Linked DNA regions of Homo sapiens: region 2 is linked to region 1. The links come from fine-mapping of genetic effects on gene expression. A gene starts in region 1. The other region holds a variant in brackets. All regions are shown on one strand. Distances are between the middles of the regions. Region 1 holds the start of MGMT (O-6-methylguanine-DNA methyltransferase). Region 2 overlaps LOC107984281 (a long non-coding RNA gene).

The links. PIP is the estimated chance that this variant, and not a neighbour inherited with it, causes the effect.
Region 2: its variant is the best candidate, but not a certain one, in a credible set for the expression of MGMT in tibial artery (GTEx, PIP 0.72).

The regions. Positions count from the first base shown.
Region 1 is chr10:129,465,485-129,468,240 of GRCh38, reverse strand. It overlaps MGMT (O-6-methylguanine-DNA methyltransferase), which reads right to left and starts at 1,000. Exons shown (of 5, transcript NM_002412.5): 1 at 945-1,000. RefSeq lists silencers at 701-900, 921-1,360 and an enhancer at 212-1,134.
Region 2 is chr10:129,792,373-129,795,384 of GRCh38, reverse strand. All of the region lies in intron 3 of LOC107984281 (a long non-coding RNA gene), which reads right to left. Among named protein-coding and RNA genes, the nearest start is that of MIR4297, 49 kb to the left of the region's middle. The variant T/C (reference allele first, on the strand shown) is at 1,211.

The DNA.
Region 1 (2,756 bases):
TGAGAGGGCCCTGAAAATAACAAAACCATCTCCTAGACACCTGCCCAGGGATGGGGGAGATGACGGGAGAGCCTGACTTAACAGATACTCTATAGGTTTCTATTTGGATGTCTATGTAAATAACCAGTCTAATTCTCAGCTCTCTGTGCTTAACATTCTACTGAGAACAGCTCTCTGGACCAAGCCGCTTCCCTGTCTGATGATGATCTCAGCAGGCATAGGTTGCACACACATGTACAAAGTCTGCTTTCCAGGACAGAAAGCCAGCTACTCAGCTGAAGCAACTGAGAGCAAACACCACCCTGAGATTTCAGGAGATGATGAACCCAGGAGTGCGAAATACATAGTTCAGAACTCCTCTGCGGTGTTATAACCGACATTACGGTGCCCAGTGTGTGTGGCTCTCCAGCGAGCCTTGCTTACTCTAAGTGTTGATGAATACAGTTAGGGTATGATGTACACAAACACCAGCCATAGTAACCAGAAGGCCCCTAGAACTTGGCCTCCAGCAGGAAGGAAATATGGGACTCTGCCTAAGTATGCTAAAGGGTTGCTGCAAGCCAAGGCCCGCGCAGGGGCTTCTGGAAGCTTCCTGGAGCAGCTGGCGGAGGGAAAGCTGGCAGCATGGAAGGGTAGGAAGAACCCGGGGCCCGGGCCTGGGGCTGGCACCTAGAGGTAAGGCAGGGGCTGCCACGACCCCCGCCACACGCCAGTCCACAGTCACTGCAGCGCAGCCTAGTCCAGGAACCCCAGGCCCGGGGAAAGGCTGGGCAACACCTGGGAGGCACTTGGGGCGCACCTGGAGCTCGCCCGGGATGGGTGGGGGTCAGGGCGGCCCCACACCCGACGGCGAAGTGAGGGCGCCTGCAGGACCACTCGAGGCTGCCACCGTCCCGAGGGAGAGCTCCGCACTCTTCCGGGAGCGAGGCGACCCAGACACTCACCAAGTCGCAAACGGTGCGCACCGCGAGGACCTGCGGGCGTCGGGACGCAAAGCGTTCTAGGGGCGCGGGCTGTCCCAGCATATCCGGGGCGCGGGGGCGGGGCCGAGGGGCACGGGGATGGCGGCGTGGGGCGGGGTCTAGAGCGGGGCGGAGCCGAGGACCTGAGAAAAGCAAGAGAGCGCGCGGGGGCGGGGCCGGGGCGCGCGGGGGCGGAGCTGGGGCGGAGCCCGGGAGGGGCGGGGTGTTCCCGCCCGACCGGGTCGGCGCATGCCCTGTGCGGCGGCGCCGGGCCTGAGGCAGTCTGCGCATCCTCGCTGGACGCCGGCACGCCGGCCCTGGTCCTCCGGCAGCGCCGCTGCCCTGTGCGCCTGACCCGGATGGCCCTTCGGCCGGTACAAGCCGGGCGGCGCCTTCCCAGCTTCCGCCTGAGGCTCTGTGCCTTAGTTTGCCAAATGGCCCGTACCTTTTCCTGTCACAGGGATAGTCCGCGGGCGTGCAAGCGACCTGCCACGTGCCCGAGTGGTCCTGAAAGCGCGCGGGGGTCGTAGGACGGCGCCCGCTTAGTGAGAATCCCGGTCCTGCTCGGGGCGGCTACGCTGAGCCCGGAGCGCGAGTCTCTCCCCTCCTGGTGCCGCTCCCCTAGTCAGGGACCCCCAGACCAGCAGAGACCCTGTCAGGGGGCCGTGGGGGCAGCCTCCAGGGCCTGTGGTGGGCGATGCCGTCCAGGGGCTGCAGTCACCGATGGCCTAGACACTGCCAGAGCCTGACTCAGCCGCTCTCCAGAGAGCACACAGGGTGCCAGGCCCTGCTTGGGGTTGTGTGGACGTTATTAGGAGTTGAATTGTGTCCACCAGAGAAGCTATGTTGGAGTCCTAACTCCCAGTACCTCACAATGTGACCTTATTTGGAGATGGGGACTTTACAGAAGCCATCAATTAGTGGGCCCCTCATCCAGTATGACTCGTGTCCTTATAGGCAGAAGGCCGCTTGGGGAGGAGGATTGGAGGGCTGCACCTGCAAGCCACCAGAAGCCTAAGAGGACAGACCCTTCCCTGGAGCCTTCGGAGGGAGCAGAGGACACTCTTCCCTGGAGCCTTCAGAGGGAGCAGGATCCTAACACACCTGGGTTTCAAACTTCTGGCCCCCGGAAGTGTGAGACAATAGGTTTCTGTTGTTTTAAGCCACTCAGTGTGTGGCACTTTATTATGGCAGCCCCAGGCAATGGGTACAGAAACCATTGTCTCTAACGTGGTTGGCATAAGCACCCCAGGGAGTAGTATCATCCCTGGAGGCTTCGGAGAGGTCACACACCCCTTGGCAGGATCCCATCCAAGGCCCACATGTTCTAAGCCACCATGCTACGGGCCTTCTAGGTTCTGTTTGTTATCTTAATGGAAAGGGGTCTTCACCTTCCCGGTGAAGTTTCCCTGTTGGGATTCGGCCAATGCTCATACCTTCGTATTTGTGACTTGCAGGATCCAACATATTAGCATGAGTGATAAGGGTTGTTCAGAGGAGAACTTCAGCAGGATTTGCTTTGGGATGAGCCCTGGTGACAATACAGGCTGCATCATTGATCCTCTGAGGTTCCCCACCCCGACCCTGCCTTGGATGAGACATGTTTTAAATAGCTGCTTGTGGGAAATAAACTAGGCCCTGAGTACACGATATAATGGTCAAATCAAGGCACTTTTTCCCCACTGAACCTGGACACAGCCTCGGAATCCTTCTCAACACTGTGTTCCAAGCAGCCATTCACATTTAAACTAATGTGGAAGGACAGATGAAACATGTTTGCCCTTGGCTCTGGTT
Region 2 (3,012 bases), 330 kb before region 1:
GTGTTCAGGAGAGCACAGGCAGACACACTCTGGCTCTGACCAGTGGCAACAGTGATGACCCAGGAGCACCACTGCAGAAGCTCGGTTAACCCAGGGGGCTCATCTTCCTCCAAAGGCCACCCTGGGGTCTCTTTCTGCCTCCATGGAGCTAGAAACCCAGGAAACAGCAGCTCTCTGAGGACTCAAGGCCAGCACTAGAGAAGAGGGTCTGTCTTTCAAACATCCGCTGCAAACAAGACAGCCCAAATAGTGCACTTAGGAGCTGCAGGCTTTGGGGTAGGGAGGCAGAGACGCGGCTGGGCAGTAGGAAGCCAGCAGGGACGGTGGGCCAGGTCTCCTTGCTTCTGCAGTCACCCAGGGAAGATCCTTGTGCTCAGGGGGGATTTGGCTTTGGTGCCCAGGAAAGGACTGGAGCCTCATCCCCTCACACACTGACTCCCTCCCCTGGTCTGCACCATCTCCCACAACAGGATGGGAGGTTGCATGGAGCATAATGTCAGCACTGGCCCCTCTGCCCGGGGTCCCTCACGTGCTCATTCTGGCTCCAAATGGAGGCTGTGTGCGAGTTACGGAACTCACGCAGCCTCTGCTCGCAATTTCCACCAGGAAGAGCTGCTCCTTTTTCACTTTTAAACCCCAAGTAGGGCTAAAGAGCTCTCAGCCGCTCCCTTCTAGAGGGCCCGGGAATGGCCAGCCAGGAACGCGGCTCTCCCGCGGCCACGGGAATGCCTGCTCTCTAGTGTCCCGACGAGCCCACAGGCAGGCCCCAGGAACAAAGAATGAAATGGCCCCAAAGAGCAAGAGTTACATTTCATGCTTAAAATCAAGGCCATCCCATGAGGAGCCAACCACGGAGACTCTTGATTGATGGCGGAGAATAATTATTCTCAGTGTTGCTGCGAGCTTGCCTTCGTAGAAAGCCAGAGATGAATAAAATATATGAGAGCATATCAAAATATAGTGCAAGGACAACATATACAAACAGTACGTTAAGCATTATGGAAGACAATAAACGGAGCTGGAAAACACATCCGAGTTAGCGCTGGGCCCGGAATCCGTGTGCATCTGCGCGAATGGGAAGCAGCGCCGCAGACGTCTCTGTGTGGCCCCTTCGGTCCTGGGAATACTTCATTAGTTGGAAAATCTGAGCAGATTAATTTCTACCGCCGCCTCCTTCCTGAAGGACAGGTTCCTGGGTGCACAGCGCGGC[T/C]GCGGCTGCTCCTCTGCCGCCAGGCCCCGGGCTTCCCTCCACACGCAGAGTGCAGTGTCAACAGAAATGCTACAGTGACATTTCTCTCTCTCTCAATTACTTGTAGGCTTTTCACTGCCTGTATAAAATACATATTGTGCTCCAGCGAGATCCATTGTACCGAGGTCAGCGGGAACTCATTGTCCTTTTTAGCTTCAGAACAAGACAATACTGACATCTGTAAGATTTGCTGTAAATAATCCAAGTGGTATAGGTACCGGGTCAGGGGCAGGAGAGGGTAAAAAAGAAAGGAGGAGGGAAGGAAAAGAGGAAGGAAGAGGGAGGGGGTGAGGTGGGGTGAGGTGGGGAGAAGGGGAGAGGGGAGAGGGAAGAGGGAGGCAGAAAGGTGTTGTGAAATTTACTGAATGCTAAATCATTCCGCATCCTGAATTGGTCATGGGAAGGCTTCACCAAATCGTTTGCATCATTTCAGGGAAAAATAAATATTTGGCAAATACCTACAGGACAGCATCGGCTTGCATGCCTACTGCAGATGGCCTTTGCTCCCAGGGCAGGATTTATCCTGCAAACCATCGCACCAGAGAGCCCTAGGTGCAGGGGCTGTGCCCAGCCCTCCAGCAGAGCCACACATGTGGAGCTCCGGTGCATGGCCTCGAATTCTAATTGGGATGGCAGAAGTCTATGATTCTGATTAAGTGCAACGGAGTCATTTACTTGACAGTTCAAATCAATAAGTTAAAATGGGGTGGGGGTGGGGGAACAACCTGCACAGTCAAAGATTCGAGAAGCAGAAAGGCCTACTGGGTGCCGGCTTTGCCCTGAACCGCCTGCCTTTTAAGTCGGTGTGTGAGAAAATCAAAAGCGTATTTGACAACCAGTCAGGGAGAAGCTCTTCTCCGAAGGAGAGATTTTTCATGGAAAAGAAAATTTGGCGACAGGCAGGGGACTGTGCCCGGGATGATAAATGAGGGAGAGAAATACTAATGGAGACTCCGTGCAGGCAGAAGTGAGACTCCTGGAAGCCCACTTGTCTTTTTCTTCTCTACCTGTGTAAGAGGCAGAGACCGTGCATGCATGTGCGAGTGTGCACGTGTAGGAGGGAGAGATGGAGCGTGTGTGCGTGAATGTGTAACAGGCTGAGACCAAGTGTGTGTGCATGTGTGTATGAGGCAGAGACCAAGTGTGTGTGTGTGAATGTGCATGCGTTGTGTTGGTGGGACACACAGTGTGTGCACATGTGTGCATGTGTGTGCCTGTCCCAACACACTTCTCCAGTCCCTGGTTTGAGACCCTGTCCGGGGGTGGATAGAGAGAGAGCTGCTGATGAACTTGGCTTCCAGTACAAATGCGGCTGCTTCTCTGGGTGGGAGGCGATCGCCACACTTCCTCAGTCATGGACAGTGCTGATTTTGAGGCTGGCCCAGCAATAAATTCATTTCCACTCGGGACTTTTACCCTTAAAGACAAAATCTCTTCAGCCTGTACCTTTTCCCTTCGGTCATATCCAGAAAAGTGAGCATGTGATTTCAATTTGAAATTAAAAGTCATGTCTGAATAACAGAACTGCATTCTCATTTCCTAATACCCTGGTTTTTACTACTTTGCATTCAACTGTGAAAAGTCTTTTAAAACTCGGAACAGCAGTAAAACTTGAATGAATTTTTGACCCATTATTGCATAGCGGGTGCGCCTTCCAAGTTGGAGAGACTGCCAAGTTCTCACCACCTAATATTTCCACTTTAATTGTGCCACTTGAGAAATTTACGTGCCTCAAAATATGGCATGAATCTTACGCTTATTGC